Linked DNA regions of Homo sapiens: all the other regions are linked to region 2. The links come from fine-mapping of genetic effects on gene expression. A gene starts in region 2. Each other region holds a variant in brackets. All regions are shown on one strand. Distances are from middle to middle. Region 1 overlaps RRN3 (RNA polymerase I transcription factor RRN3). Region 2 holds the start of NTAN1 (N-terminal asparagine amidase). Region 3 has its middle 73 kb from the start of NPIPA5. Region 4 has its middle 15 kb from the start of MIR3180-4.

Region 1 (8,474 bases), 21 kb before region 2:
TTGCTTATCCTGGGAATTCAGGGTTGCAGTGAGCTATGATTGCACCACTGTACGCCATCCTGAGAGAGAGAGCAAGACCCTGTCTCTAAAAGAAAAATAAATGTTCTGAAATTGATTATGTTGATGGTCTCATAACTGAATATATTAAAAACTTAAATTGTATACTTTAAGTTGGTGATTGTATGATATATGAGTTTTATCAATACAGCTACTTAAAAACCTATAGTTATGCAAATTAAAAATTTCATTTACTGGGAATAATTGAAATGATTATACCGAACATAATACATGTAGAAACAGTATAGTTTTTGTATTGCTGGATAGTCTGTTTTTTTCTTTTTAAATATTTGAAACTAAAGGTCATGTAATTGATGTTTTGCTTACATAACTGTGAAACGTTTATTCTCTGTTGAAATGTTTTATCTTACATTTTCTCCTTTAGGAATGTTACGTTCATAACTTACTAAGGATTAGTGTATATTTTCCAACCTTGAGGCATGAAATTCTGGAGCTTATTATTGAAAAACTACTCAAGTTGGATGTAAGTATTGAGTAATCTATTTTTATTTTCATTTACTGACTTGAATTTGTTATAATCACAGTATGTGGAAACAATAGTCAGTGATAGAAAAGAATCCACTTGGCCAGGCGTGGTGACTCACGCCTGTATTCCCAGCACTTTGGGAGGCCGAGGCAGGCAGATCACCTGAGGTCAGGAGTTCGAGACCAGCCTGGCCAACATGGCGAAACCCCGTCTCTATAAAAATACAAATAAAAAATTAGCCAGGCATGATGGTGGGTGCCTGTAATCCCAGCTACTCAGGAGGCTGAGGTGGGAGAATTGCTTGAATCCGGGAGGCAGATCTTGCAGTGAGCTGAGATCGTGCCACTGCACTCCAGCCTGGGCGACAGAGCGAGACTCCATCTCAAAAAAAAAAAAAAGAAAAGAAACCACTAGCACCATTCTTTGCTTCCTTTCTTTGAATGTGTGCATGTGCTGGGAGTTGTAGACAGTTCCTTCTCATGATTGGAGAACAAGGCGTTAAATACATAGTTATCCAAATGTAAAAGTATGGTTGTGGAAAATGCTATGAATGAAACATACATTATGAGTTAGAGAACCTGATAGAATCACAGTGGGGTCAGGAAGGGATTCTTACGGAAGTGATTTTTCCTGTTTGGCCTTTCTTAAGGGCAGATTATAATTATAAACAGTTAAAACTTTGTTTAAGGAGGCCCGCACTAAGGTGCAGTGGGAATGAAAGGAAGTAGTAGATTCTAGTGACATTGTCAGGAAAGATGAACTGGTGCTTGAGACTGGTTTGGAGGAGGGGAGGCAGACAGTAAGGGAAAGGAATCCTTCAACTTTGCTCCCTGTGGAATTGAATCTTGGTGTTGCCATTAATGGTAGTTAGAAATATGAAGAGGAGGCCGGGCGTGGTGGCTCACGCATGTAATCCCAGCACTTTGGGAGGCCGAGGCGGGCGGATCACGAGGTCAGGAGATCGAGACCATCCTGGCTAACATGGTGAAACTCTGTCTCACTAAAAATACAAAAAATTGGCCGGGTATGGTGGTGGGCACCTATAGTCCCAGCTACTCGGGAGGCTGAGGCAGGAGAATGGTGTGAATCCGGGAGGTGGAGCTTGCAGTGAGCCGAGATTGCGCCACTCCGCTCCAGCCTGGGTGACAGAGCAAGACTCTGTCTCAAAAAAAAAAAAAAAAAGAAAAAAATACGAAGAGGAGGCAGTTGGAAGAGTAGTTCCATCTTGGCCAGGTTCAGTTGCTGGTGGGCAGCCTACCAGAGAATACTCACAGGCAGTCGTGGCTGCAGATGGGGACCTGAGCATAAACCTTTGGAAAGATGCAGTTTAGGACAGGGGAGGAGAAGGGTGATCAGAAGTATGGGGAAAACCAAGAGCCTGGATGCTCAGGAAGGATCCGCCGGAAGGAGGAGTTTGGTCAGCAGCATCAGATACTGCTGTCATTTTTTAGAAAGATGAAAAGAGCAACAGTCCTTGGATTTAGTGGTTAGAAGGTAGTCTTTGTTGCTTTCTGGAGGACCATGTCAGTGAAGACGCAGAAACTGCATTTCGGGAGAGGATGTGGATGGTGGGGAAGCAGAATTGGGGCTGTTAGAGACCTTGGTGCAGGGTTGTGGTGGAAGGAGGGGATGGAGCAGGGCTAAGAGGCGTGGTTTAGGAGTGGAGAGACGTGAGCAGGTTTGTGGACTGAGGGGAGAGGAGCTTTGGTGGAGGAAAACATTGATGCTATAGGAAAGCAGGAAGATGGAACAAGGTCTCAGAAGAGCTGGAGCTTGGGCTCACTGGTGCAGTGCTCACTTGGAGTTGCACCTCTCTGGCCAACTGTATATGTACTCTTTATAGTCTTTCTCTGGTATATACTTAAGGAACATTTTAGAATGTTTACAAAGAAGGTCAAGCATAGATAATAAAAAATGGCATGGTTTGAGTGGTATGTTAAGATATTTGAATGGTGATATACCAAAATAAATATTGCATCATGCACATTTGGCTGGCAGTTCATCATTTTTCTGCTCAGTTGATTGACGATATGTTTATTACACAATGTGTCTGTGAGTGTCTTGTGCATAGAGATTGTATTAGTCCATTTTCACACTGCTGATAAAGACATAGCTGAGCCTGGGAAGAAAAAGAGATGTTTTTGTTTGTTTGTTTGAGATGGTGTCTCGCTTCTTGCCCAGGCTGGAGTGCAGTGGTGCGATCTCGGCTCACTGCAACCTCCACCTCCGGGGTTCAAGCAGTTCTCCTGCCTCAGCCTCCTGATTAGCTGGGATTACAGGCACATGCCACCATGCCCGGCTAATTTTTTGTATTTTTAGTAGAGATGGGGTTTCACCGTGTTAGCCAGGATGGTCTCAATCTCCTGACCTCATGATCCGTCCACCTCGGCCTCCCAAAGAGCTCGGATTACAGGCGTGAGCCACTGCACCTGGCCAAAAAAGAGGTTTAATTGGACTTACAGTTCCACATGGCTGGGGAGGCCTCAGAATCATGGCGGGAGGTGAAAGGCACTTCTTACATGGTGGCGGCAAGAGAAAATGAGGAAGATGTAAAAGTGGAAACCCCTGATAAAACCATCAGATCTCTTGAGACTTATTCACTATCACGAGAACAGTATGGGGGAAACCTACCCTATGATTCAAATTATCTCCCACCAGTCCCCCCCCAGCAACATGTGTGACTTACAGGAGGAGTACGATTCAAGATGAGATTTGGGGCCAGGCGCGGTGGCTCATGCCTGTAATTCCAGCACTTTGGGAAGCTGAGGCCGGTGGATCACCTGAGGTCAGGAGTTCGAGACCAGCCTGACTAACATGGAGTAACCCCATCTCTACTAAAAATACAAAATTAGCTGGGCACAGTGGCACATGACTGTAATCCCAGCTACTCGGGAGGCTGAGGCAGGAGAATCTCTTGAACCTGGGGGGCGGAGTTTGCGGTGAGCCGAGATCTTGCCATTGTATTCCAGCCTGGGCAACAAGAGCAAAACTCTGCCTCAAAAAAAAAAAAAAAAGTGATTTGG[G/T]TGGGGACACAGAGCCAGACCATATCAGAGCTAGAATAAATGTTGAATTTGTTGAGGCTGCCTGGCATAGAGCATCATGTGATAGTTGTCGATTTTATATAAGTATGTAGTAAAAGGGGCTTGGTTTATTATATTTAAATTCCTTCATGACCTAGGTCAGTTTACAGGCTTGCACCATAATTGTGTATTGTGTTGGGGTGTGATATAAGGCACTAATCTGGACACCTTGAACATGCGTATATCAGATGAATTTCCATCCCAAAATAACATAGTTGTATTTTTTAAATCCTTTTATTCTTTTTTTTTCTCCCTTTGTTATAGGTGAATGCATCCCGGCAGGGTATTGAAGATGCTGAAGAAACAGCAACTCAAACTTGTGGTGGGACAGATTCCACGGAAGGATTGTTTAATATGGTTAGCAGTTTATTAATGAAAGTGGAGATGAAGTTTATCATAAAGGGTGGAAACAGCTAGTGCTGCTCATCTTTGTTAAGGCTTTAGATTGAAAGAATTAAAATAGTTCAGCAAACTTGAAAACGATTCCTTATATGAGTAATTTGCTGCCATGTCATTTAGCACTTAGCATAGTTGGTCTATTTCCAAGGCTTTGAATTTGGGTTTGGTGAAGTATGTTTCACTTTTGTTCTTGTAACTTTCAGTGTTTGTTTTTGTAAGCCAGATGCTGTCTGTGAGGGCGTGGTTAATAGAAAAGCATACCTGTTTAATTTCTGCATTTTACCACTTGTACACTTTATAGCATTACTTCTTTTGGGTGGTATCTGAAGTTGGGTTCAGTGGAAGGAGAGTCTGAGACAGGGATTCAGGTGCCCTTGGGACAGAGGGTGTCAGGGAGCAGAAGAGGGCAGGGGAGCTAAACGGGGGCCGGGTCTCACTTGGGAGGTCGCTACAGCCTGCTCCCACCAGGCATTCTGGGGCATGGATTGGTCTACAGAGTTTGTTCCCAGCTTGAGACCAAGGAGATGTCCTTTTCTGATGCCTTGTCAATCAGTCATTGGTTCTAAGGGGGAGGGGCTGGAAAGAGTGCAAGGGTGGTCCTGGCTCCTTTCTGCTCAGGGCAGCTCTGGAGAAAGTAGGCGGCTGTGAGCTATTGGCCGCCAGTACTCACAGCAGTGGGGAGGTGGATATCCCGACCTGCAAAAGGGGGCCCGGCACCAAAAGCACCCGCCATGGTGGGCACCAGGAGCAGAGGTAGGGGGCATCTGTGATTTTTGCATGGATAGGTCTCATTGGGTCTTCTCAATGAGAATCAGAAGCTGGTGCTGTGAGTCTTGGCTTTTATTTTAAATTTCACTGGTGGTTCTGATTCACATCCCTGAATGAGACCCCTGCCTGGAAAGGTGTCTGCATTTCTTTCTTTCTTTTCTTTCTTTTTTAATTTGAGACAGGGTCTCACTCTGTTGCCCAGGCTGGAGTGTGGCAGTGTGTGATCTTGGCCCACTCCAGCCTCGACCTCCTGGGCCCAAGTGATCTGCCCACCTCAGCCTCCCCGAGTAGCTGGGACTACAGTGTACCACCGCACCCAGCTACTTTTTTTCTATTTTTGTAGAGACAGGTCTCACTGTGTTGCCCAGGCTGGTCTCAAGTTCCTGAGCTCAAGTGATCCTCCTGCCTTGGCCTCCCAAAGTGTTGGTAATTATAGGCGTGAGCCACTGTGCGTGGTCCATTTCTTTGTTTTAGTTTAGTTTTTTTTTTTTTTTTTTGGTGGGGCACAGAGTCTTCCTCTGTTGCCCAGGCTGGAGCACACGAACTCGGCTCACTGTAGCCTCCTCCACCTCCCAGTTCAAGCTATTTTCCTGCCTCTGCCTCCTGAGTAACTGGAATTACAGGCGTGCACCACCATACCTGGCTAATTCTTGTATTTTTAGTAGAGACAGAGTTTTACCATGTTGGCCAGGCTGGTCTCAAACTCCTGACCTCAAGTGATCCCCCCACCTCTGCTTCCCAAAGTGCTGGGCTTATAGATGTGAGCCGCTTTCCCCAGCCTCTTTGTTTTATCTTTTAAGGGAAATAATCACTTATGACAGTTTTCCTACTAAACCACTTTGACATTGAATTTTTTAATGTTAGTATTTACTTTTTGTCTTCAAAGGATGAAGATGAAGAAACTGAACATGAAACAAAGGCTGGTCCTGAACGGCTCGACCAGATGGTGCATCCTGTAGCCGAGCGCCTGGACATCCTGATGTCTTTGGTTTTGTCCTACATGAAGGATGTCTGCTATGTAGATGGTAAATCACAGTAGCTACTGTTTATTGAACACCTGCAGTGTACCTGGCTTTGTGCTGGGCATTTTCCATCCATTATCTCTAGTAATACTAAAAATCCTGTAAAAATATCTATTGAGTATGAGTTTAAGATGATTTAAAGAGGTCAAGTTACTTGCCAGTCACATAGCTTGAAAATGGGACTGGGATTCTGGCTGAGTTATATTTGTCTTCTGTCTTTTCACTGATTGTTGTATTGAAAGATTATATATGGAGTTTGGCCAGTTTTAGATCAAATTACGCTCAAGTTGCTGAATGCACTGAAGAATGATGTAGGGTGCACTAATATATGGTGCTCCGTTATGTATTGAGTTTAGAGGGTCTTTGCCTGGCACCATTGTTGTGCCAGTGTTAGTACTATATGTGCTTCTTGACTTCATGGAACTTTAAAGGCTTTGCCAGGCGAAAACAGAATTTTTTTCCATTCACATTGCTAAGATTTAAGATGAGCTCAGTGAGTCAGAATAATAGAACTGGAATCTGAGTTGACTGCATTACTGTTTTAACGGTCTTGCTGTTATAAAAATAATACATGTTGATTAGAGAATTTGGAAACTACAGGAAAGGATAAAAACAATTTAAATGGCCACATTTCTACTCTTCAGAGAACCATTGTGAGCATTTTGAAGTTTGACTTTTTTCCCTTTTCTGTTAGCGTCTGTATATGTAGGAGAGTATTTTTTAGTGAATTTGGGTGTCACACTAAACACAAGTGTTTCATAATCTGCCCTTTACATGGATGCTGAAGATAAACATTTTCTCATATCATTGCCTGTTTTAAAATAATTGTTATTGAATCCCAGCACTTAGGCCAAGGTGGGAGGATCACTGAGGCCAGGAGTTCAAGACTAACTATCCTGGGCAACATAACAAGACCCCATCTCTAAAAAAAAAAGTCGTAATAATAAATGTTGTTGGTCACATGGGTTTAACTGTCTTTTACTGTTTTCACCATGATAAGTAACAGTTATAATGAACATACTTGTGCCTATATATTCAGCTGTTTACTAACAGTAAAATGATCGGATTAGAGGTCTTTTGCTACACGAATGATAGAATTGCTCTTCAGAAGGGTTTGCATTTCTGACCTTGCCACAGTGTGTGAGGTGAGGGCCTGCTTCCTTGCAGGTGTTAGATTATTATATTCAGAGGAAAATCTGTGTAAACTAAAAGTAGCATTTTGTTTTAATGGTATTTTAATGGATAATGTCTGTCTTTCTTTTTTTTTTAAATAGCCACGGTCTTACTCTAACCCAGGCTGGAATGCAGTCGCACAAACATGGCTTACTGCAGCCTTGACCTCCTGGGCTCAAGCGGTTCATCCGCCTCAGCCTCCCATGTAGCTGGGATCACAGGCGTGCCACCATGCCTGGCTAATTTTTTGATTTTTTGTAGAGACAGAGCTTCCCTGTGTTCCCCAGGCTGCCCTTGAACTCCCGGGCTCCCTCTCACTTTGGCCTCCCAAAGTGCTGGGATTGCAGGCAGGAGCCACTGTGCTTGGCTGGATAATGTTGTTTTTTAATGGTGTTGTGTTTATAAAAAATATGGCAGATGAAACTTGAAAATATGTCTTTATAAAAACTGAGATGCCAGATTTTCTCCATAGGTAAGGTTGATAACGGCAAAACAAAGGATCTATATCGCGACCTGATAAACATCTTTGACAAACTCCTGTTGCCCACCCATGCCTCCTGCCATGTACAGTTTTTCATGTTTTACCTCTGTAGTTTCAAATTGGTGAGTAAGAATGTGATTAACATTATCTTAGCTTACTTTGTTTTTGCCCAAAAATTTTCCCTAAAAACTGGGGTGGACGGAGACCATGAAGTAAATAATTCTTTTCTTTGAGCTTACTTGCTAGTCTGCTTAATAAAATCGCATTCTCCTTTCTTTTTTTGTTTTCTTTTCCTTTCTTTTTTGAGACACAGTCTCGCTCTGCTGCCCACTGCTGCAACCTCCACCTCTTGGGCTCAACGGACTCTCAGTCCTTACCCTCTCGATAGCTGGGACCACAGGTTACCATGCCTGGCTAATTTTTGTATTTTTAGAAGAGGTGGGGTTTCGCCACGTTGGCCATACTGGTCTTGAACTCCTGACCACAAGTGATCTGCCCGCCTCCTGCCCCGCAAAGCGTTGGGATTACAGGTGTGAACAACTGTGCCTGGCCCACGTTCCCTTCTCAGTACACTTGGAGAGAAAACAGATTGCTGCCTGCCAGCCCAGCTAGGTGCTCCGAAAATGTCATCCTGCCTTTTGGTCACTAGGTGGTGCTCTTCCCTTAAGCCTTTCTCTATTAAAATCTCATATGGGGTAATTAACTGTATTTCCTTTATTCTTTCCAAGGGTTGAGTTGTAACTAGCCCAAACCAACTTATTAATCTAGAATTTTAAAAACTTTAGGCTTTGTCTTTTCTTCTTCTTCTTCTTTTTTTTTTTTTTTTGGTGGGGGAAAGAATGTAGAAGGCTTTTCCTTCTCTGCAACGATTTTGTGGCTTCCTAGAGATCAGGAGAGTGTTGGTCATGGGAAAGAAGGTTGAATTCAGTCTGCCCACATGGGTGTGCCTAGCTTTAGAACAGCGCTATTTAGGAGAAGTTGGAAGTTACACCCTTTGGTGAGAAGCT
Region 2 (7,674 bases):
CCAAAGCTCCACCATGTTTTCTTCCATCAAATGCTTTTGTGTGTTTCAGTCTGACTCTGGATGGTTGAGTAGGATTTATAATGTATCTAATAATTTGGGGCCAGGTGTGGTAGCTCATGCCTGTAATCTGAGCACTTGGGGAGGCCAGCAAAAGGATCTCTTGAAGCCAGGAGTTTGAGATCAGCTGGGGCAACATAGTGAGACCCCCATCTCTACATTAAAAAATTTGAAACACAAATTGGGATCCTTTCACTAAATATTTACTAAGGTTCTGTATAATGTTCATCATTCTTTTTTTTGAGACAAGAGTCTCACTCTGTCACCCAGGCTGGAGTGCAGTGGTGCAATCACAGCTCAACAACTGCAACCTCCGCCTCCTGGGCTCAAGTGATCCGCCCACCTCAGTCTCCTGAGTAGCTGGGACTACAGGTACGCACCACCATGCCTGGCTAATTTTTGTATTTTTAGTAGAGATGGAGTTTCACTATGTTGGCCAGGCTGGTCTTGAACTCCTAACCTCAAGCAATCTGTCCGCCTCGGCCTCCCAAAGTGCTGGGATTACAGGCGTGAGCCACCATGTCTGGCCTCAAAAAAGTGTAATTTAAAAAATATTTCCCTGTATATATTCTTTGAACTTTGCCATCAGCCATCTTGTGAGGCAGGTTGGTTTCCTATCTTAAAGAAACAGGCTTTCCAACATTGTAATTAGTGCTTTCTTTTTCTTTTTCTTTTTTTTTTGAGACGGTCTTGCTGTAATCACCCAGGCAGGAGTGCAGTGGCACAGTCGTGCCTCATTGCAGCCTTGACCTCTAGGGCTTGATTGATCCTCCCGAGTAGCTGGGACTACAGGCCTGCCACCATGCCCAGCTAATTTTTGTATTTGTTGGAGAAGCAGGGATCCCTGTGTTGTCCAGGCTCGTCTCGAACTTCTGGGCTCAAGTGAGTCCTCCTTCGGCCTTTCAAAGTGCTGGGGTTACAGGCATGAGCCGCAGTGCTGGCCACACACCTGCTATTGCTTCCTCATTGCCTGTAGACCAAAATTTGTGGAGCTGGGTGGGAAGAGAGGTAGGGGAGTGGTTTCCTGCTTGTTATCTGGCTCATTTAGTCCTTTAACACAGTACTCAGCCTAGGAGATTGATAACCTGAGATTACTTGAAAAAAGATCACCCAAAAGTGAAAAACCAGTTAGGCAAACTGCACCAGCCCCAGGCAGAACCCACAGAACCTTGTTCTTCACCTTTGCACTTCCAAATGCCTCACTTTGATTGACTACTCTTTGCTCTGCAATTCCAATAATAGCTATCTTTAGTGTTTAGTATGTACCAGGTGAAACAAACATGCTATTCTACAAAACCAGTTCAGGGAAGTTAAGTAACTTGCTCCAGGCCAGCCTGCTGGTCATTGATCACCCTGGTTTCAAACCCTGTTTTTAGCTCCGAGCTTCCTAGTTGGGACTTACTTAATGTCACCTGCATTAGAATGAGTTGTTTACAGTACAGTCTAGGAGCATCTTATAGTGATGGAGAGCACTGCCTTTGGAATCATGCAAAGCTAGGTTCAGTCTTCGTTCTACTACTTATTTCTACCACTTTGAGCAAGTTACTGTATCTGTTATAACGGAGGTGTTGATAGTAGCTCCTACATTTGTGAGGACAAATGACAAATGAGGTGTTGATAGTAGCTCCTACATTTGTAAGGACAAATGAGAAATGTAGGTGTAATAATACAGAGAAATAATTTCCTGGTAGCTAGAAATAGAGTTATTTTGGGTGAGAAGTTGGGTAACCTGGCGATGGGAACACCATCTTCTACAGTCATTTCTTTAGTAAATTTCCTGGTATTTTTGTTGAACGGGGTGTGTAAGCTGAGGGGGAGATTTATGAAAGAAGACGATGAATACAGATGATAAAATTCTAATAAAGTTTCTGCTGTATCATGTGGCTCCTCTGTATCTTTTGTAAAATTACTTTTTGTTAATGTGCTGCAGAGTTGGATGAATTTGAGCAATATTTCCAAGTTTTAGAAGAGAGCTCCACGGTGAGACGCCTCTCACCTTGGGGACCTGTCCTCAGATTAGGGGCTCTGCAGTCAGTATCCGCAAATCCTTCCCCCACGGTTCCCAGCCCACCTGTGAGTGGCCTATTGCATTCCAATCACGACGTGTTAATCGATGATCTCTTTAGTACGTGGGGCTAGCACAGTTCAGGATCTATTTTCTCAGTTTAAGACCGTTTACATTTATTTTTATTATTTTCAGAAACAGAGTGTCCCTCTGCAGTGCCCAAACATAGCTCATTGCAGCCTCCCACTCCTGGGGTCAAGAGATCCTCCCGCCTCAGCCTACAGAGTGGCTGGGATCACAGGTGCATGCCACCGTGCCCAGTTAATTTTTAAATTTTTGGCAGAGACGAGGGTATGGGGGAGGGTGGGTCTCACTATGTTGCCCAGGCTGGTCTCGAACTCCTGGCCTCAAGCGATCCTCCTGCCTCGGCCCCCCAAAGTGCTGGGATTACAGGCGTGAGCCACCGTGCCCGCCTGATTAGGTTTATTATTACTCATTGAATGCAATCCTACGGAGCTGCACAGCAGGGTCCCAAACTCAAGCTTGTGGAAGGTCACACACCTGGGAAGCGTGGAGCAATGACCTAAAGCGCAGCAGTCGGAGCCAGAACCCGCCCCAGGAACTCGCCCGGAGGCTCTCTTGGCTGGTGCAGCTGCTCCCTGGCAGCTCTCCTTTCCCCGCTCCTTCACTCCCACGCTTTTGGGACTACACTTCCCAGCGCCCCTTGCGGAGGAGGCGGGCCGCGCGCTGCTTCCAGGGCCACTTCCTGGCTTTGGACTACATTTCCCGTGAGGCCTTGCGGCCATGTCCTGGATTTCTCCAGTCTCTTCGGCCGGCACCGCCTCCGCCTGGACTCCACTTCCCGGCAGCGCCCGCGGTGGGGCGGGGCAGGACGAGGCGGGACGCGCGGCCCGAGGGGCGGGGGCGGCGGGCGGCCCGGGGCTGCAAAGCGGGGGGCCGCCGCCTCCCTGGGCCTGCCTGGGCGGCCGCCTCCGCGATGCCGCTGCTCGTCGAGGGGCGGCGAGTGCGGCTGCCGCAGTCAGCCGGGGACCTCGTCCGAGCCCACCCGCCTTTGGAGGTGAGTGGGGCGCGGCGCGGGGCTTCGGGGCGGGCCCGAGGGGAAGCTGCAGGGCGGGCTAGCGCCCCCCTCACGCGACACAGACTTGAAACTTGGCGCTGTTGGCACATCCGGAGCCCCGGCCGTCGGCTCGCGTCTTCCCCTTGAGGGGTCGGGGAGTTTTTGCCTTCTTTAGACTTCAGCGGGCTGCCCCGGAGGCCACTCTCTGACAAGGGAGGGGACGGGGGCCCAGAGAGGTTAGGTGACTTGCCCAAGGTCGCACAGCACTGCGGCTCGGGGACACGCCGGGACCCCCATTCCCCGACGGGGCGGCTGCAGCCCCCATAGGGCTGGGTCCGTTTAGGCAAATCCGGCCGCCCGCCTTCGGGGACCCGCAGCCTGCGGTGAACGTTGCTTCGTCCTTGCGTCCCCGTGAAGCAGGAGGTTATTCCAGGGTGGGCTTCGGAGAGCGTTTGGCCTGGGGGATCTTGGCGGGGACCCCCAGTCCTTCCTCCTCTCTCTCCCCTACCCCCGGGGCGTAGGGCGCCGAGTTATTTTTAGCCGGGAGAGAGAGCCCTGCTTTCCGCAGCTGGGCCATAGGACCACGCCCTGATGCACGGGTTTTGTTTTTGTTTTTTCTGCTTTTGTGCTCAAATAGATCTCTGAACTCTTGTCCACGCTTATGCAGGGACTGTTGGCAAGGGGGTTCTCAGGTTTTAAAAAGAGCGGGGCGTGGCGGCGGGGGCAGACGTCCTATTTGCCATAGATCCTGTTAAAGGGGAATCAATCAGTTCCTTGATTTGAGAGTCAAATATCGAGCCCCTAATATCTGTTGGGCAACGTACTGATCACTGTCCCTGCCCTCGGAGTGTTTATAGTCTAGAAGGGAGAATGGTTTCTGATGAAGAAGGCTCAGATACTATAAACTGTTAAGTACCATAAAGAAAAAGCGTCCCCTTTCACTCTGAGATGGGAAGCACAGGAACCTGACCAAGTGTGTTGGGTTGGGGAAGGCATTTAGAGGTTTCATCTGTCACAGCTGTACAGTTTGTGATTATTTTGTTTGCTTGTTTGTTCTCTATTGGTCTGTCGCCAGAATGTAAGCCTCCTGAAGGCAGATAAGAGTAGTGTCCTCACTTTTGTATCCTCAGAGTGTAGGACGGTCCCTGGCATAGAATTGGCGCTCAGTAAAGATTTGCTGCATAAATGAGGTCACAAAATGACCCCTGAACGTGTTCTGAAGGGTGACAAGGACTTACTGACGGGGAGAAGGCAGACAGCTCTGTGTGATTCTCAGCTTGCATTTCAGGACCGACCATCGTCTGTTAGCCAACATGCACCGAGCTAGGCGTGGTGGCGTGTCACTTTATCCTTGCGTTGTGTTACTGTCCTGTTAGCTAGCGAAGTCAAGAGTAGGACTCACCAAGGAAAAATAATTTCAGCCGCCTGAAGAATTTAGGGGATGCTCTACTTTTATGTCTGTTTGAAAATGTCCGTGATAGAAAGTTAGATGGGTGTCCCGGGCTGCACACTTAAGTGTGGAGGGAGATTTGGTGACATACCGGGGCTGCTTCTCTCGAAGGAAGGTTTTGGCCTATTTAAGAAGACATGTCCTAGAAAGGCTGTGTACTGGGGACCAGTTTGTGTTACAGGAACTTTGGAAGGGGGCGATCACTTTGATTTGCGGCAGTGTAAGTGAAGAAGGATGCAGGCACGAGAGAGATTTGAAAAGGAGAAGAAGGGTGAGGGCATCGCAGCTGGGCAAGCCGCCTGGGGCGCGGCGGGCAGGAGGGGAAGGGCCCAGTGGGTGGGTGTCCTGGCCAGTTTCTCCGGAGCAGCCCGGGTGAGGAGGGGAAGCATGGAAAGTAACCTTACAGGGGTGGATTGTACCCAGATGACCAAATGACCAAGGGGCTTAGATGGACCTTTCACCTACTTAGCAACAGGGAGACATTAAAGGTTGGGTTTTTTGTTTGTTTGTTTGGTTGGTTGGTTTTTTTGAGACTTAGTTTTGTTCTGTGGCCCAGGCTGGATTGCTGTGGCACAATCTCGGCTCACTGCAACCTCTGTCTCCCAAGGTTCAAGCGATTCTCCTGCCTCAGCCTCCCAAGTAGCTGGGATTACAGGTGCATGCCACCACACCCAGCTAATTTTTTTATTTTTAGTAGAGACGGGTTTTCACCATGTTGGCCAGGCTGTTCTTGAACTCCTGACCTCAAGTGATCTGCCCGTCTCGGCCTCCCAAAGTGCTGGGATTACCGGTGTGAGCCACTCCACCTGGCCTGGATTATTTTTATATAATAAAACAGGGTGTCCTCTTTGTAGGAAAGCAAAATATAATAATACAGAAAAAAAAGTATGACTACAACCATTCTTTAGTTTGGTGAAAGTCCTAATGAAGGTTTTTCTTTGTATATAATTTACTTTTTTTAAAAAAATGATAGCTTACTATATGTTGTTTTATAATGTGTCTTTTTCATGTAACGATGTGTTCTGAGTATGGAGTACCAACAGTTAGAAGCCTGTGTGTAGCTATGACTAGCAAATAATAACAATAAGTCATACAGTGGAAGCTGCCAAGCACCACAGCAAGAGTTACTGCTATTCCCATTTTACAGATGAGGACTGTGGGGCACAGAGAGGCTGGGAAACTGGCCCCAGGCCCCACATCCTGGGAGTGGTGAAGCCAGGATTGGAACCCTGGCAGCCTGCCCTTGACTCTGGAGCTGCGCTATTCAGTACAGTAGCCACGAGCCATCTGGTTACTTAGGATTTAACTTAAAAATCAATTAAAATTAGATAAAATTGAAACTCAGTTCCTCAGTTGCAGTAGCCACATTTCAAGTGCCGAGCAGACAGCATGGCTACTAATGAGACAGTGTGAATATAGACGGTGGCCATCCCAGCATGAAGTTCCTTTGGCCAGAGCTGTTTAGAGCCCTCCCTTAGTCACTCTTAACCAGTCACTGGGTACTCGGTAACCAGTCCTGCAACATCTTGGGTAATACGGTTCCACAGAGTCTACAAGATGCTCGCAGCGTAGCTTAGTTCCTGCTTTTATTATTTATTTATTTATTTTTTTTTTGAGAGACAGAGCCTTGCTCTGTCACCCAGGCTGGAGTGCAATGGCACGATCTTGGCTCACTACAACCTCTGCCTCCCAGGTTCAAGTGATTCTCCTGCCACAGCCTCCTGAGTATCAGACATCTGCCACCATGCCCGGCTAATTTTTGTATTTTTAGTAGAGATGGGGCTTCAACATGTTGGCCAGGCTGGTCTGAAACTCCTGACCTCAAGCGATCATCTCGCCTCGGCCTCCAAAGTGCTGGGATTACAGGCGTGAGCCAGTGTGTTGGGCCTCATAATTTCTTATATAGCATTGTGCTTTACAGTTCACAGATCACCTTCATGCCCCTCTCCTGTTTATAAAGGAAGAATTGATAAACAGGACAGCAGGGGTGAGGGTCACATGATCATCCCCCAGGTCACAGCTAGGTGATTGGCTAAGACACAGGTCAACAAGCCACAGCTCATGGGCCGGACCCTGCTTATGTATAGCCTATAGGCCAAGAATGGTCTTTATATTTCTCAAAGGTTGAGAAAAATCAAAATAATATTTTGTAACATGGGAAATGGTATTGAAATTAAAACTTCGGTGTCACCTATAAATAAAGTTTTATTGGAACACAGCCACATCTGTATTGTCTATGGCTGCTTTCACTTCATAATAACAGCAGAGTTGAGCAATTGTGACAGAGACTGCGGCCTTGTAGAACCCCAAATATTTACTGTCTGGCCTTTTTCAGAAAATCTGCTGGTCACTGGGTTAAGAGAATACTGCCATTGAATAGGAACTGGGAAATAGGGATGAGGGACTGAGGGAAAAGCTTTTTTTTTTTTAAGCAAATATTAGTGTCTAGAGCATATTAGAGGTTAAGAAAACTGGGACTACTTGCATATGAATTTATAAAGTAGGACTGTGTGGTTTTCCAAAGAAGGGAAGTTTGGCTAAACTCTTTTTACTACTTAAAAGAGCAAAAATTAGCCAAGTGTGGTGGCGTGCGCCTGTGGTTCCAGCTACTGCAAAGGAGGCTGAGGTGGGAGGATTGCTTGAGCCCAGGAGTTTGAGGTTGCAGTGAGCTATGATCTGGCCACAGCACTTCAGCCTGGGCAACAGAGTGAGGCCTTGTCTCTAAAAAAAAAAAAAAAAAAATTAAAAATAAAGTAGAGGCTGGGCACAGTGGCTCATGCCTATAATCCTAGCACAAGTGTGGTGGCGTGCGCCTGTGGTTCCAGCTACTGCAAAGGAGGCTGAAGCAGGAGGATCACCTGAGGCCAGGAGTTCGAGACCAGCCTGGGCAACACAGGGAGACCCCATCTCTACAAACAGTACAAAAACTAGCCAGGTGTGTCGGCTCATGCCTGTAGTTCCCAGCTCCTTGGGAGGCTGAGGTGGGAGGATTGCTTGAGGCCAGAGGCTGCAGTGAGCCACGATCTCGCCGCTGCACTCCAGCCTGGGAGACAGTAAGACCCTGTTTAAAAAAAGAAATTAAAA
Region 3 (8,474 bases), 250 kb before region 2:
AGTTTGCAAGATGGTGTGTCAGCCCAGTTCTGAGAAACAAACTCCCATACAGGATTACACATATGTGATTTTTATTAAGGGAAATGCCCTTGAGAGAAAGCAAAGAAGGTGCCACATAAAGCTGGGAGAACCTGAGACAGTAATGCAAGTCTGACTCTGAGTAAAAGAGAGAGGAGAAAAAAGTTAGGGTGCGAACACCATAGGGAAGTCCCTAAGCCAAAGCCGGGGACAGGGGAATCCTGTGTCTCCCGGGGAGGGGTCTGCTTTAGTGTCCCTGCCATGCTCAGTCATTAGCCAGGAGCACCTCATGGAAGGAAGCATATGGATTCCCCAGCGCAGCAGCTGGGGCCCTGGTTAATTACACTCCCAGTAGAGGCAGGTCGATGAGGCCCATTCTCAGGGCCACCACGTGGTGAGCCATGCAGCACTGGCCTGGCAGAACATTTGTCTGGGTTCATACAGTATTTACATTAAAAAAAATCAGGGCTGGGTGCTGTGGCTCACACCTGTAACCCCAGCATTCTGGGAGGCCAAGGCAGGCAGATCACTTGAGATTAGGAGCTGGAGACCAGCGTGGCCAACAAGGGGGAAACCTCATCTCTACTAAAAATACAAAAATTAGCTGGGTATGGTGGTGCACCCCTGTAATCCCAGCTACTTAGGAGGCTGAGGCAGGAGAATTTCTTGAATGTGGGAGGAGGAGGCTGCAGTGAGCTGAGATCATGCCACTGCACTCCAGCCTGGGCAACAGAGTGAGACTCTTGTCTCAAAAAAAAAAAAAAAAAAATCAGTCGCCAGCATTCAACAAACTGTGTATTTTACATCTTTAAAAACCCCTGGATTTCCTGCTTCTCTTTAAAAAATAGTGGCAGTTTGGCAACATTGGGAGTCCATTCCACAAATCTTGCAAAATTGAGTCCTCGCTGCCTCCTTAGATAGGGTGTGTGCTCTCTAGTTTGCCACAGTCTCCACCAGACCCAGTTGCCCTAATCTGTACTCTTCACTCATTTGTGTTACTTGTCTGCCCATGTGTGCATTTAAGTTTGCAACCCTTGCCTTAAATTCATCTGAGAAACAAACTATGGCAGTCAGGTTCAGCCATAGAATCTAATGGGAAGGAGCAAAGCTGGAGATTGAGCGACTAAGCTAGAGGTTGATAAAGCAGGAATAGAGCAGGTAGCTGGAGTCTGAGCAGACAGACTTCAGGGCTTGTCTGCCTTCCTAAGAGCTCCTTTGCTGGCTGGGTGAAGTCACTGAGAACCTAAGCAGAGGGTGTCAGTTCTAGCCTTCCTGGAGAAATCTTAGTTGAGATGGATGTTTAGAGCTGGTGGACACTGCCTTTGTGTCAAGCCAGTCTAGGAGTCACAGCAATATTTGGACACTGGTTGAAAGTTGTTTCATCCCATCCCACTTGCTCAGCAATTTGGACAAGTGTGGGTTTAGGTTATTTTAATTGGTTAATACCCTTTTGTTTAGGTGCTCTCCTTTCCTCTTCCACATGGTTCAGTAAGGCTGCCAATTCTAGAGCTCTTTCTTCTCCTATGAAAGTCATGGATGTCTTAGGCTGGGTTTTCCCAGAGGCAGATCCTGTGATGAGGATTTCCATGTAATGGTTTATTTGTAGGGTGACTCTGGGAAGCACCAGTAGGAGAATGGGAGTGTATTAGTCAGGGTTCTTTAGAGAAGTAGAACCAATAGAATAGCACACACACATACACACACACATATGCATATACATATACACACACACACACACACACACATATATAAGCATATGGGGAATCCATATGCTTCCTTCCATGAGGTGCTCCTGGCTAATGACTGAGCATGGCAGGGACACTAAAGCAGACCTCTCCCAAGGAGACACAGGATTCCCCTGTCCCCAGCTTTGGCTTAGAGACTTCTCTATGGTCCATATATATATATATATATATATGTGTGTGTGTGTGTGTGTGTGTGTGTGTGTATATACACACATGTATATGTACACACACACACACACACACATATATGTGTGTGTATGTGTGTATATATATATACACATACATATATGTATCTATATGCACTTTTATATACATACATTCACATACATATATGTATCTATATGCACTTTTATATATATGTGTGTGTGTGTGTGTATGTGTGTGTGTGTATGCAATTATGGAGGCTGACAAGTCCTAAGATCTGCAGAATGAGTCAGTAAGCTGGAGACCCAGGAGACCCAGTGGTGTAGTTCCAGTCTGAAAACCAGCAGGCTTGAGATCCAGAAAGAGCCGTGTTTCAGTTTGAGTCTAAAGGCAGGAAAATTTTGACGTTTCAGTTTGAAGGCCCTCAGGCAGGAGGAGATCTCTCTGACTCAGGCAAGGGTTGGCCTTTTGTTCTATTTAGACCTTCAACTGATTGGATGAGGACCACGCACATCTGGAGTGCAACCTGCTTTCCTCCGTCTACCGATTTAAATGTTAATCTCGTCTGAAAACACCTTCACGGGAACACCCAGAATAATGTTTTACCAATTATCTGGGCACTCAGCGTCCCAGTCAGGTTGACACATAAAATTAACCATCACAGGGCAAAATGAGACAAGGAAATCTAAACCAGAATAGAGCAAGGTAATGAGTAAGTTACTTCTATGGGCAGCCGGGGCTTGGTCCTTTTGATGGGCTTTGGTTGATGGCATGGAACACACCTCAAAGTGTCCCACCTGAGTGTTGAGAAAACTGAGATATTTATCTTTCATCACTCATCTGACATTGACCAAGGGATTCTCTCAGGGACTTTGACATCCTTGAACTTCTGGCCTGTCTTGCCGAGGCCGAGAAAAGGCCTTCAGGTGGGGAGTTGCAGGTGCTTGCAGAGGGAGGCCTTCAGCTTGTATGGGATGGGGAGGGTCCAAGGGACATGGGTGGCCATTGCCAGTGTCTGCTATGGTTGGTAAGTGGCACATATCTGGTCAAACATCAGGCTCTATCCACCCAGCAGTGTTGGACCTTGGAGTGGCACAGGCATCAGAATCTTCCCTGGGGATTAACTTATTGTGGTTCTTGAACAGAGAGGATATATATCTGGAGGTGCCAGCCTCTACTTGCCCTCCCACATGGAGAGAGATGGAGAATAAGGCTGAGCAAAGACAAACAGTGAAGAGAAATGGAGACAGAGAGAGAGAGAGAGAGAGAGAGAGAGAGCGAGAGAGAGAGAGAGAGAGAGTATACATGTACTTTGAGGCAGTGAGTCCTGTTTCTAGTCCCTGGGGCTCTGGTTCTTTTCTCTTCCTGTCTTAGTCTGTTTTTGCTGCTGTAACAAAATACCCAAGACTAGATAACTTATAAAGGACAGAAACTTATTTCTCACCGTTCTGGAGGCTGAGGAGTCCAGGATCAAGGCACAGGCACATTTTGTGTCTGGTAAGGGGCTCTGTTCCTTACTTCTAAGGTGGTGCCTTGTGTCCTCTGGAGGGCATGAATGCTGTATCCTCATATGTGGAAGGTGGAAGGGC[A/G]AAAGGGCCTAAGTTAGTTCCCTCTACCCCTTTATAAGGCATGAATTCATTCCTTAAGGGCCAAGCCCTCCTGACTGAATCACTTCCTAAAAGGCCCCACCTCTTAATACCACTGCAATAAGGATTAAGTTTCAACATGAATTTTGGAGGAGACACATTCAAACCTTAGCATTCCCTTTCCGTAAATGACCTCAGCTGGGTAAACCAGTATATTCGTTTCTTGATTAATTTAGCCAGAGTTAGATTTCTGGGCATGCAACCAAAAGCTCTTACTAACAGTTACTGTGGTGGGATAGGGATGGGGGGAAGGGAGATTGGGATTGAGAGAGAGATTGCCCTGGGCCTAAGAGCTTTCTCTCCTTATTACATCCCAGTGCCTGAGATTTAAGTTGCTAGAAGGAAGATGAGTTTATGGTGGAAATTTGTAACCGACCATTAACTAGAATGGCACAGCTAAGACCCTGTGCCTGACCAATTGTTAGGACTTAAAGAAATAGCAATAAAGAAAGAGCTTTTAGTTTTGGAGCTTAATTAGCCATTCTTTTCCTTCCTGACTTTTAGTTTTATGACTCTAGCTTCCAGGATAGAATTTTATTGTAGTCAGATACAAATTAAACCCAAACAAGGACTCTCCCGTGTTTCTGTTTCTTCAATTTAAATTTATTCTTTGTAGGGTGACACTAAGTACCACAGTATATGTCACATGTAAGAACAGTAAATTTTTAAAAAAGAGAGACAGGGCAAGCATTTATCATTGTGATCTCTTCTCTAAACATAATGGGAACTTAGGTTAATTAAAAAAAAAAGTTAATGCCGTTGTTTTTTGCCTTAAGAAAGGTAGGGTTTTTATCTGAAGTGCTCTGAGAATTGGCACTCTTAAATCTGCAATGATGAGAAATAACAGTAGCTACCATTTGTTGAAAATCTATTAGTAGTATGCTAGGTCCTTAACCTTCAGTATCTCTAATTACCCCAAGACACTTGAAGGATGGATGGTCTAAAGTTTCCATGTGTGCAAAATGATAGCTCTGAGAAGACTTAACCAATGTTTCAAAGATTTAAAAAAAAAAAAAAAAAAGGAATTGGAGCCAGTTTGCATTAAGACCTTTTGAACTCCAAAAAATCTATCTATGTGCTTCCGACTTGAAAAGGGTATGTTTTGCATGCTGGATATGGGTTTGGTGGAGGTGCTGGTGTATACACTGTATGTTTCAATGTTAGACATCGTGCTGGGTACTGCACTTAGTAGGCACCTGATCGCATTTCTGTTCGGCAAATTCAGAAAATGTGAGCGACTGAAACTTCATTAGGTTGAAGGGGAATTTACCTTTTCACTACGTCTGAGCAAAGGGTTTATTCGGTAAGGTATATTTATATTATATTATATTATATTATATTATATTATATTATATTATATTATATTATATTAGTGCCCCATGGAAATTATATTTGTTTCTCTACAGATAACAAAGATTCTTATTTCTCTCTTAAAATTCAAAATAAAGAGTCTTACTGACATCTACCATAAATCCTCTGCTGTAACCAGGTAGAGTATAAATAACTCCATAAAAAGAGAGTAATGCTGTCTTGCATTTGCACAGCACTTTACAGTTTAGAAAGTATTTGCTTGCCATGTCCCTTTCGATCCTCCTGATAGGTTTGCGGGGTAGGAAGGAGAGGTACTGTCATTTCCATCTTCCTGGTGGGAAACAAACATTTGGAGAAGTTGGGTGACTTGCCCCAAGGTGACACAATAGTGAAGGGTTCAAACCAGGACTTAGTTAGTTTGGGTGTCAGAATGGGTCAGAGTGGGTTTGTCTTAGTTAGTTTGGGCTGTGTATTAGTCTCTTCTTGCATTGTTATAAAGAAATACCTGAGACTGGGTAATTTATAAAGAAAAGAGGTTTAATTGGCTCACAGTTTTGCAGGCTGTACAGGAAGCATAGCTGAGGAAGCCTCAGGAAACTTACAATCATGGCAGAAGGTGAAAGGGAAGCTGGCATGTCCTACATGGCTGGAGTAGGAGGAAGAGAGCAAAGGGGAAAGTGCTACACACTTTTAAACAACCAGATCTTGTGAGAACTCACTCACTGTCATGAGAACAGCAAGGGGCAAGTCTGTCCCCGTGATCCAATCCCCTTCCCCCAGGCCCCTCCTCCAACACTGGGGATTACGATTCGACACGAGATTTGGGTGGGGACACAAATCCGAACCATATCAGGCTGCAAATAACAAAATAGTATAAACTGGATGGCTTAAGCAACAGAAATCTATTTCTCACAGTTTTGGAGGCTGAGAAGTGCCACAATCTGGCTGATGTAGCTCCCAGCGGACCCTCCTCCTGGCTTGCAGAAAGCTGCTTTCTCTCTGCATTCTCACATGACGGAGGAAGTGGGGGGTGGGGGGAGCGGAGGTAGAGAGGGAGGGAGGGAAGAGGAGAGACAGAGCAAGAGAGCAAGCCGTCTGGTGTCTTTTCTTGTAAGGATGCTAATTCCATCACGAAGACCTCATCCTCATGATCTCATCTAAACTAATAGTCTTCCAAAAAAGCCCACCTCCTAATACCATCATAATGGAAGTTAAGGCTTCAACATATCAATTTTGAGGGGACACAGTTCAGTCCATTGGACTTAGAGTTCACACTTCCTGGACAAGATTTTGGAATGTTGTAAAGTTTCTTCAGAAAAACAACTATTTTCCCCCAAGCATTTATAGCCCACTTTAGCAGCACTCAACTGCATGCCTCTGATCTATATGCTAATTTTGGATCCGCCTTATCTCTTAAGGAATCCAAGAGTTTGTGTGTGTGTGGATGCTCCTTGATTTGAAATCCTTATGTGCTTAGAACTAATGGCGTTGTAAAACACACTCCACAATGTACCCTTCTCTAATTCAGCCTGATTTTCTCCCATCCCTCCACGTTAGCCAGGCTCCCATGCCCCTGTTTTTGATCACGATTGATTGTCCAGCTCCAAAGCATCATCTGAACGACTTATGGTCTTTCTCCCGAGTGTTGGAGCCCAGGGTAGGCAGATGGGAGAGGGTAGGGGATTTGAACCGGGGAAAGACATTTAAATTTCCTCCTGTTCATCTTAGCTTAGGAAGTTACCTGCTGTCTGAAGGGTGTATCCCTATTTTATTATTTATTTATTTTTACAAAACCAAGGGAAACCAACAACGAACGCAAGAGGAGCTCCTCTGCCTCTGATTCCAGTAGCTGTGTTCTCAGGTTGGAGCAGCCAACCCAGAAATTGGTGGCCAGTGGCTAGGGTCAGGATGAGCAGAGTGAACGCGAGTTCTATGTCTGATTATAAAAACTGTACTTGCTCCTTATGGAGAATTTGAAATCTAGGGAAATTATAAAAATGTAAAGTGTTATCAGTCCTTTGTCAGCCATTGGGCTGGTTGGTTGGTCAGAAGTCATCACTGTTATAGACCCTCATTGCTTAATGAAAATTAATTTGTCAAGCGATTTCCTTGATGATGCTAATATTTATTGAAAGGTTACCCTAGGCTGAGTTCTGGCTAACAGCTGTATATGTGTATACTTTTATTTTCCAAGTGAAGAAACAGGCTCAGAGAGGGTAAGAACTTACTCACGGTCACACAGCAACTGAGTGGGGCGGCTAGAATTTGGGTTCAGATAGTCAGACGTTAGAGTTCAGGTTTTTCATCCCTTCAACATCTACACATTTTTCAAGAAATAACAAGATTCACTTTTGGTTTGAAGAGGAGTGCATGGGAGAGAAAGAAAAGTACCAAATGGGAAAAAGAGAGAGCAAGGAAACCAAACTCCGTTTGTGGTCATGAGCTACATTAAAAAAAAAAAAAAAAAAAAAGCCAGGCCAGGGACAATGGCTGGATTATGCCTGTAATCCTGCCACTTTGGGAGGCCAAGGCAGGAGGATCAATTGAGGTCAGAAGTTTGAGACCAGCCTGGGCAATATAGCGAGACCCCATCTCTACAATTCTTTTCTTTTTTTTCTTTTTTTGAATTAGCAAGGCGTGCTGGTGTGCACCTGTAGCCACAGCTACTGGGGAGGCTGAAGTAGGAGGATCGCTTGAGCCCAGGAGTTCAAGGCTGCAGTGAGCTATGATCCCACCACTGCACTCCAGCCTGAGCAACAGAGTGAGACTCTCTCTGAAAAAACAACAACAACAAAAACAAAAACAAAGCAAAGCTGGTGGTTTCACATGAGTGTTGCTCCTTCTGGAAAGGCATCACTGGAGTGGGTGCCATATTTTGATGCTGCTGCTGCCAATGATGAGAACATGGGCAACCTCTTTTGCCTGTAATTTTTTTTTTTTTTTTTGAGACAGTCTCGCTCTGTCGCCCAGGCTGGAGTGCAGTAGTGCATTCTCAGCTCACTGCAACCTCCACCTCCTGGGTTCAAGGGATTCTCCTGCCTCAGCCTCCCGAGTAGCTGGGATTACAGCTGCCTGCCTCCACACCCAGCTAATTTTTGTATTTTTAGTAGAGATGGGATTTTGCCATGTTGGCGAGGCTGGTCTCAAACTCCTAACCTCGTGATCCACCCGCCTCGGCCTTCCAAAGTGCTGGTATTACAGGCATGAGCCACCGTGCCCGGCCAAGAGAGACTTTTCTACACTTTGTAATTATGTTATTTTTAAACTGAAAACTGTGTTTCCTATTTCTTAGTGTTAGAAAGAAAGAGAAATCCCTCAGAACAATCAGCAGCCTGGAGCATAGTTTGAGACTCCCACTAACAGAGCCAAGAGTCTCAAACTAGGCCAACAGATACCCTTGGGGAACCCTGCTGTATCCCTGGGACATAAAAAACTACAGTACAAACATCATCATCTTCCTGGAGGATGAATAAACTTTAGTAGAGTAATAGTAACTTAAAACACATGTGGCACAAAATAGAACGCAGAGTTCACAAATACCTAAGGTAAAATAAGACTTCAAAGAAAATTTCACCTTTGCAGAGGTTATTTTGGGCTACACTCCACAGAG
Region 4 (8,474 bases), 110 kb before region 2:
GGTCAGGCTGGTCTCGAACTCCTGACCTCAGGTGATCCACCTGCCTCGGCCTCCCAAAGTGCTGGGATTAAAGGTGTGAGCCACCGTGCCTGGCGGCCTGGCCTTCTTTTATCTTTCCTGAACACTATGAGGTTGTTCCTGCCTCAACACCTTCAGGCATGATATTCCCTCTGCCTTGAAGGTTCTTCCTTTTAGGCTCAAGGTGGCGAAATTCTTCTCACCATTTGGGTTTTGGCTCGAATATCACTTTGGGCCAATCTGTTGTTTACTGCCATATTCCTAGCCTTGAGAACGGTGTTGAATGAATTATAAATTTACCATGATTGTCATTTTATAAATGAGAAAAAGATTTAGAGAGCTGAGATAACTTGTTTAAGGTCACATAGCCATTACGTGGAAGAGTTGGGATTTGAACTCATGGTCTTCAAAGCTGTGGTCTTACCACTATACTATATTTAACCTCTGCGATGAAGGAAGAAGTATATATTTAGTCTTTGTCCTGGTTCCTGACACAGAACTTCTAAAACCCTTGGAATTTCCTGAATGATGGGTTTAGGGGAGCATCTTTTGTTGTTCATAACAAGTCCCTTTCAACGATTCCTGAGTTTTCGCAAATGAGGGGACTCTTGGTGAGCTCTAGATAGATTCAGGATGGGGCTGGCTATAGAGAAACCAACCTCATGATTAAAAGGTTGGAGGAGCTATTAGGCTCATTGCCCACCCCAAATCTTACTTCCCACCTCAAGGAGAGGAGAGAGGCTGAAGTCAACAACCATTGACCTAATCACCAAATAGCCAATGGTTTAATCACACCTATGTAGTGGAACCTCCATAATACTAAAGGATGGGGTTCAGAGAGCTTCTGAGTTGGTGAGTGCATGGAGCTGGGAGGCTGGTGTGCATGGGGCCCTTCTCCCATCCTTCCCCTATGCTTCCCTTCCATTGGGCTGTTATTGACTTTCATCCTTTATAATAAACCAGTAGTAGTAATTAAAACACTTTTCTGATTTCTGGGAGTCATTTTAACAAATTATCAAACCTGAGAGTGGGTTGCAGGAACCCCCGATTTATAGCTGGTTGCTTAGGAGTACAGGTAGCAACCTGGGATTTGCAACTGGCCTCAGAGGTTGGGGGCCTTCTTGTGGGTTGGAACCCTTCACTCATAGGGTCTGACGGTAACACCAGGTAGGCAGTGCCAAAGTTTAATTTAATTATAGAATACCCAATTGGTATCCACAGAGAATTGGAGGATTGTTTAGTGTGAAAATTCCCGTACATTAGGTGTGTAAAAAGTTCATAACTTCCATCTGTGAAATAAGATGATAACTCCTATCCAAATTAGCAAATATTCAAGCATGAGTCTGGCAATGCCCTAGACACTGGGATACCATGGGGAAGAAGAAGGCAAGGGCTCTCGCTTCGTGGAACCCACAGTCTGGTGATTCACTGCAAGAAGAGTGTGGTGAGTGCAGACAGGGGACACCTGGGGAGCAGGCGCTGGCCAGAGTTGAAGACTATGGCATGATGGAGAGGACTGTTCTAGGAAGAGACGTCATATGTGGCAAGAACCTGGTGACTTTGAGGAGCTGACAAAAGTTCTAGTTCACTGGAGGGTAGATGAGCAGTTCAGGGGTGGAAGATGGAGTTCCTCAAGGTAAGAACCAAAGGGACAGAGAACTTGAACTTTATCCCAAGGACACCAACCTATAACAGAGACTCAGGTCTCAGAATATTGAAGACATCTGGCGTCAGGGCATTTCTAGGTAGCTCTTATTTGCCTTCGTAACCAAAATACCCACCCCCGGTTTGATGGTGTTTCTTAGCTAGGTGGCCATATGGGGGCCCAGCCTCAGGAGGTAAATTAATTAACCATTTAATTAACCACCCAATCAATCAGTCAATCAATCAGATAACTAGCCAACAAATTAACTCAGCAGTTAGGTACTGAGTGCCTGATATATGCTACATACTGTTCTAGATGATTGGTGAGGGAACATTGAATGAAAAAGCACAGGTCCTGCCTTCATGGGGTTTCTCAGGGGAAGAAAGAGTAAATGGATAAGTACAATGTGCAGTGTGTCAGGTGGGATAAGAGTGGCGGGAAGGGATACAGCAGGAGGGAATAGCAGGTGACAAGGAGGAGAGAGGCTTACAGAAATAAATAGAGTGAGAGAGAGGTGACATTTGAGCAAAGTCCAGAGGGAGCTCAGGGAGAGAGCAGGTGCAAATGACCTTGAAATGGAAGCGTCCTTGACATGTTTGAGAAGTGGCAAGGAGGTTGGTGGGGCTGGAGTGCAGGGAGCCTGGTGGTCAGTAGTTGAGATCAGATGGAAAGAAGCAAAGCCCACCGTCTCTGGAACTTGAGAACAAGCATCCCCAAAGCCCTCCTGGAAATTGTAACAAGGTTTTCCAGGCTGTGGACCTGTCAGCTGAAGCAGTTGGTGCTGACTGGCTGGTGTTAATTACATGTCTCCAGCTCTAGCTCCTCATCCAGGGTGGCTTAACTTGGATTAAGTCTTTGATTTAATGCAAGGTTTGTGTCCCATGTGCTTAAGAATGTGGCTTGATTTAACTGTGGAATCTATAAATTGACCTTCCAGCTGGGGATCTTCTTTTTAATCTTTCAATTAGATCTAAAGATGCTCACTCTGTTTGCAGAGGGATAGATACCATTGCATGTCAAGGACTTTCACATCTGTATAGGAGACCCAGGGGAGATTCAGTTGACTTGGGCTATTCTTAGAAGAAGCCCTAGCTGTTCTGGGGATAACCTTCTCCTTTGCAATATACCCTACGTACCTATCAGGAGGCAAAATAAGAAAACCCCAAGCAAGAACTTAAAGGGAGAAAAACACTAACATGGAGGCTCAGTTTTCTTGGCATGAAAAAATAGCCTATTGTTTTTTGCTTAAAAAAATAAGAGGAAGAGGGGTTGGGAAGAGATACCTCCAGGTTTGGCCATTCAGTCATTCAGACTATTTATTTAATAACTTTCATGTGGCAGTCACTCTCCTGGGTGTTGATATGACAGTGAGCAAAATGGACAAAAGTTCTTGACCTCATAGATCTACATTCTAGTGGGATGGTGGGAAGGGAGAGACATTTTAGAAATAGGAATAATGCTACATGTTAGAGGTCAGAAAATGCTACAAAGAAAAAGCAGAGCCAGGGCCCAGGGCATGTTGAGAGGGTTGGAGTCCCAATTGTAAATAGGGTGGTGATAAGGTTTGACTCTGTGTCCCCACCCAAATCTCATCTCTAACTGTAATCTCCGCATGTCAAGGGAAGGACCTGGTGGGAGGTGACTGGATCATGGGGGCTCTTTCCTCCATGCTGTTCTTGTGATAGTGAGTGAGTTTTCAAGAAAGCCGATGGTTTTATAAGTGGCTGTTTCCCCTGCTCTCCTCTCTTGCCTGCTGCCATGTAAGACATGCCTGTTTCCCCTTCGGCCATGATTGTAAATTCCCTGAGAACTCCCCAGCCATGCAGAACTGTGGGCCAATTAAATCTCTTTTTTTTAATAAATCACCCAGTCTCAGGCAGCTCTTTATAGCAGTGTGAAAATGGACTAATACAGGTGGTCAACATTTTCTTTTTGTTACTATGAAAGAAATTATTGGGAAAATTGGTGACATATTAATAAGGTTTGTGGATTAGATAATGGTATTAAGTCAATGTCAATTTCCTGACTTTATATGGTAGTTACCTAAGAAAATGACCATGGTCTTAGGAAATACACACTGAAGTGATTAGGGGTAAAGGAATATCATGACCCCAACTCATTCTTAAACAATTCATAAAAAAATACAAATGCAATATGTATGTATCAAGAAAAGATGATAAAGCAAGTGTGGTAAAATATTGACGATTTTAGGAAGACTAGGTAAAACGGGTTTATGAGAATTTTTTTAAGACAGTGTCTCACTCTATTGCCCAGGCTGGAGTGCAGTGGCACAGTCACAGCTCACTGCAGCCTCGACCTCCTGGACTCAAGCCATCCTCCCACTTCAGCCTCCCAAGTTACTGGGACTGCAGGTGAGCACCACCATGCTTGGCTAATTCTTTCATTATTATTATTATTTTTGTAGAGATGGGGTCTTGATATGTTGCCCAGGCTGGTCTCGACCTCCTGGCCTCAAGCAATGCTCTCAGCTCAGCCTCCCAAAATGCTGGCACTACAGGCGTGAGCCACCACACCCAGCCTGTATATGAGCGCTCTTTATACCAAGCTTACAACTTTCCTGTTAGGATCAAATTATTTCAAAATCTAAAAAAAAAAAATTACAAAAATAAGCAAGGTGTCAAGGAACCATCACAACTTCTTATGCTCATCTCCCACCCCTCTGCTGTTCCATGTTCAACACAATCACTTTACTGAATTATGTGTCACCCTCTTCTTCCCTCTCCGCAGCTCCTGTCAAACATTCACTTTCAGAATTTTCTGCTTTGGTTGGCTCTGCCAGAAATGGCCTTTTCTCCTTTTCTCCCTGGAAAACTCCT[A/T]TTCATCCTTTAAAGCCCTTCTCTGTAGAAATGTATCTTTGTTGTTTCCTATTCTCTCAGAAGAGAAGAAATAACCCCTTCCTCTGTGTCTTGTTTATTATTATATTATTGGATGTGAAACATTATTGTTTTTGTTTCAGTGTAAGTCATCTGCTCTCTCCTCCTCACTGTGAGTATCATGTGTCTCATAAGGCATGGGTCTCATTCATCTTTCTGTCCCCAGCCTAGACTACTACCCAACCCAGAGTGGAAGCTCAATAGAACTTTGCTGAAATGAATGGAAAGTTCTGATTGTCTGATTGGAGCACAGGAGCTTGGGGGACAGTTTGCACAGTGAAAGAAGGGGTCCTGATGGAACAAGCTAGCATCAGTTCAGTTCGGTCTGCAGAAAGACCTTTCTATGGTGGCGGACATTGACATATCTGTAGTCAAGGTAAAGCTGTCTAGGGAATCTTGCAGGGCAGAGACACGTCTGCAGAATATTTGCATCATAGAGCTGAGGACAGTAACTGGGGGCAGGGCAGGAGAGTCATGGGAATGAGGTCATGCATAGAAGTATGACTTAACTTGGTCTAAAAATAAATTGCTGGTGGTAGGTTGTCCAGTTACCCTTTGTCATTAAATGACCGAGACTTCTTTTGACCAGGATTCTTGTTAAGTTTTCTTGCCAGGCTGAACTCTAAAAATGACACGCATTCAGGGCTGAACAGAGGCTCACAGATCATTAATCCAAACTCCATGGAATGCTCGCACTCCCTCATTACTTTGATACCCCTGGTTTTTAAGGCTCAGAAGAAGGGTGACCCTGAATGTTAACCCTCCAAGTGGAATGTAAAACACACGACTGTTAACGGACCTATTTCAGTCTCTCTGGGTACCTTGGGAACAGAGATTCTATGTGATACGTGACACAATTTTCAGTCATTGTAGCTATCGATATAGTTCAAGCGAGGCTTTTGCCCAAAGTGGGGAGACTCAGGCAAAAATAAATTGGGGCAGGAACAGTAGAGTCATGTGGGTTCTGTAGGAATCTGCTAATGAGGGAGAAAAAGAGAATACCATGAAATGGAATAGCATGCTGGTTTTAAAAAAGAGTCTTTAAGAGTCTTGGAGACAAACAGCTCTTGGCTTGAGTCACAGCCCGGTCATTCACCAGCCGTGAGACCTCAGGCAAGGCACTCATCTTCTTTGAGCTTTAGTGTCTGCATCTATGAGGTGGGAATAATCATCACAGTTACCTCAAACGGTCCTTAAAAGGATGAAATTACTTAATGCTTGTAAAGTACTTAGTATAGTGTATGACATCTAGGAAGGGCTCAATAAATTTTGTTAGTAACAACAACATAATAAAAATTATTATTTTTTAATTTATCATCATCATTATTACTTAGAGACAGGATCTCGCTGTGTCACCCAGGTTGGAGTGCAGTGGCATGATAATCAGTCACTGCAGCCTCAAACTCCCGGGTTCCAATCATAGGTCACTGCAGCCTCAAACTCCTGGGCTCAAGTGATCCTCCTGCCTCAGCCCTGAGTAGCTGGGGCTACAGGTGTGCACCACTGTACCTGGCTATTTTTAAATTTAATTTTTTTTTTAAATTAAACTTCTATGTTGCCGAGGCTGGTCTTGAACTTCTGACCTCATGTGGTCCTCCTGCCTTGGCTTACCAAAGTACTTAGGGGTTACAGTGCAAAGGGATTAAAGACGTGAGTGTTCCACTGCAGCTGGCCTGATTTTATTTTATTATTTATTTATTTATTTTATTTTATTAGTTTTTTTAATTTAATTTTTTTTTTTTGAGGCAGAGTTTTGCTTTTGTTGCCCAGGCTGGAGTGCAATGGTGTCATCTCAACTCATCACAACCTCCGCCTCCTGAGTTCAAGAAATTCTCCTGCCTCAGCCTCCCGAGTAGCTGGGATTACAGGCATGTGCCACCACATCCGGCTAATTTTTTGTATTTTTAGTAGAGATGGGATTTCTCCATGTTGGTCAGGCTGGTCTTGATCCGCCCACCTCAGCCTCCCAAAGTGCTGGGATTAAAGGCTTGAGCCACCACGCCCGGCCTTATTTATTTATTTTTAAAATTATACTTTAAGTTCTGGTGTACATGTGCAGAATGTGCAGGTTTGTAACATAGGTGTACACGTGCCATGGTGGTTTGCTGCACCCATCAACCCATCATCTACATTAGATATTTCTCATAATGCTATCCCTCCCCTAGCCCCCCACGCCCTGACAGGCCCCAGTATGTGATGTTCCCCTCCCTGTGTCCATGTGTTCTTATTGTTCAATTCCCACTTATGAGTGAAAACATGCAATGTCTAGTTTTCTGTCCTTGTGATAGTTTGCTGAGAATGATGGTTTCCAGCTTCATCCATGTCCCTGCAAAGGACATGAACTAATCCTTTTTTATGGCTACATAGTATTCTGTGGTGTATATGTGCCACATTTTCTTTATCCAGTCTGTCATTGATGGGTATTGGGTTGGTTCCAAGTCTTTGCTATTGTGAACAGTGTGCCTGGCCTAATTTTAAAACACAAATAATGGACCTCATTTTCTAGCCTGTCTCCTCTATTATTCCATGAGCATTTCAGAGCAGTGCTGTGTCTGATATATCTGTGACATCGCCTCATCCCCTGCAAAAGCTGGCACAGAGAAGGTGCTTGGTGAATGCATTTCTTGAAGTGAGTTAAAGCCACCATTCTTGCAGCCTAGATTTTGTTTCTAGGAAGGGCACCATGTCCACCTGGTTCACAGCTGTGTTCTGAGCACGGAGCATGGCACCTCGCACATGGTGGGCAGTTAGACATTTGTGGACTGGTAGAGGAAGGAATGATAGGAGCAGCAACAAGGTTTCTGAGAACCATGCACAATCATGCCACATGCATGCACCAGAGACTATAGCCAAGGCTGCTGGCTTCTTAGGTGTATATTTCAGCACTTCTATATAACTTGTAACATTGTATTAAGTCTGATTTACTGATGTGCGCACAGTAAACACTGTGGAAGGATAGGTACCAAACTGTCCCCAGCAGTTTCCTGGGGGTTGGACCTCTTGCTTTTTATTATACACTTGTCTATTGCTTGATGCTTTTATAGTAAGCATGAATTACTTTGGCAATGAAAACACCAAATAAGATAAAGAAATAAAATATTGAAAAGGGAGAGGGGGAAGATGAAGAGGAAAGAAGAACAGAAATGAGCAGATTTTTTAGAAAGAAAAATGTCAGGCACAGGTGGGAGGGAGTAACCCTTGGTTGTGAATTTTGTCCCTCCCAGACCTCAGATATTACCCTCCAGCCCTGCAGGGAGCACTGTCTCCTCTTGGTGTGCCTTTAAATGTCAGGGTCCCACTGCAGAGAAGGGGTGAACTGAGGACATTTTCACACTTTTAGGGCAGTGTTTTGTTTGGAATAATGCTAACAACTCATGAGAGGAAAGATTTTTGCAGCTGGACAGATCTGGGTCAGGATGCCAGCTCCATTATTTGCTAGCTGGACAAGTTATTTCACCTCTTGAGATCAGTGCTTTAATCTCTAAAAGGGGACTAATAAATATCTACCTGCTAGCACTTCAGCCTTAGAGGACTAAGTAAGGTAGTAAAAACCTTCAAATACCTATGGTGATGATGATGATGATGGCATTTAGTTGGTATGGATAGACAATCAGCTACTAATTCACACCCATGTTTCTTCTACCTGTCTTTATCCTCAGAACACAAACATGGATGTTTTCAAATTTTCAAATGCGTTTCTGAAAATAGCATATGCTTTTTTTTCTTCTTCTTTAAGTGACAAGGTCTCACTCAGGCTGGAGTGCAGTGGTGGGATCATGGCTCACTGTAGCCGTGACCTCCTGGGCTGAAACGATCCTCCTGCTTCAGCCTCCTGAGTAGCTGGGACTACAGGTGTACACCACTGTATCTGGCTAATTTTTGTATTTTTCATAGAGACAAAGTCTCACTATGTTGCC

What was found. PIP is the estimated chance that this variant, and not a neighbour inherited with it, causes the effect.
Region 1: its variant is the best candidate, but not a certain one, in a credible set for the expression of NTAN1 in left ventricle (GTEx, PIP 0.83).
Region 3: its variant is the best candidate, but not a certain one, in a credible set for the expression of NTAN1 in unexposed skin (GTEx, PIP 0.85).
Region 4: its variant is the best candidate, but not a certain one, in a credible set for the expression of NTAN1 in whole blood (TOPMed, PIP 0.54).

The regions. Positions count from the first base shown.
Region 1 is chr16:15,072,065-15,080,538 of GRCh38, reverse strand. RRN3 (RNA polymerase I transcription factor RRN3) reads left to right here. Exons shown (of 18, transcript NM_018427.5): 9 at 443-541; 10 at 3,889-3,981; 11 at 5,678-5,816; 12 at 7,459-7,589. It also overlaps a transcript of PDXDC1 not described here. Among named protein-coding and RNA genes, the nearest start is that of RRN3, 18 kb to the left of the region's middle. The variant G/T (reference allele first, on the strand shown) is at 3,568.
Region 2 is chr16:15,051,357-15,059,030 of GRCh38, reverse strand. It overlaps NTAN1 (N-terminal asparagine amidase), which reads left to right and starts at 2,957. Exons shown (of 10, transcript NM_173474.4): 1 at 2,957-3,140. The coding sequence starts at 3,060. It also overlaps a transcript of PDXDC1 not described here. RefSeq lists a silencer at 3,402-3,586.
Region 3 is chr16:15,301,274-15,309,747 of GRCh38, reverse strand. No RefSeq gene overlaps it. Among named protein-coding and RNA genes, the nearest start is that of NPIPA5, 73 kb to the left of the region's middle. RefSeq lists enhancers at 5,519-6,020, 6,024-6,525. The variant A/G (reference allele first, on the strand shown) is at 3,497.
Region 4 is chr16:15,165,703-15,174,176 of GRCh38, reverse strand. No RefSeq gene overlaps it. Among named protein-coding and RNA genes, the nearest start is that of MIR3180-4, 15 kb to the right of the region's middle. The variant A/T (reference allele first, on the strand shown) is at 4,501.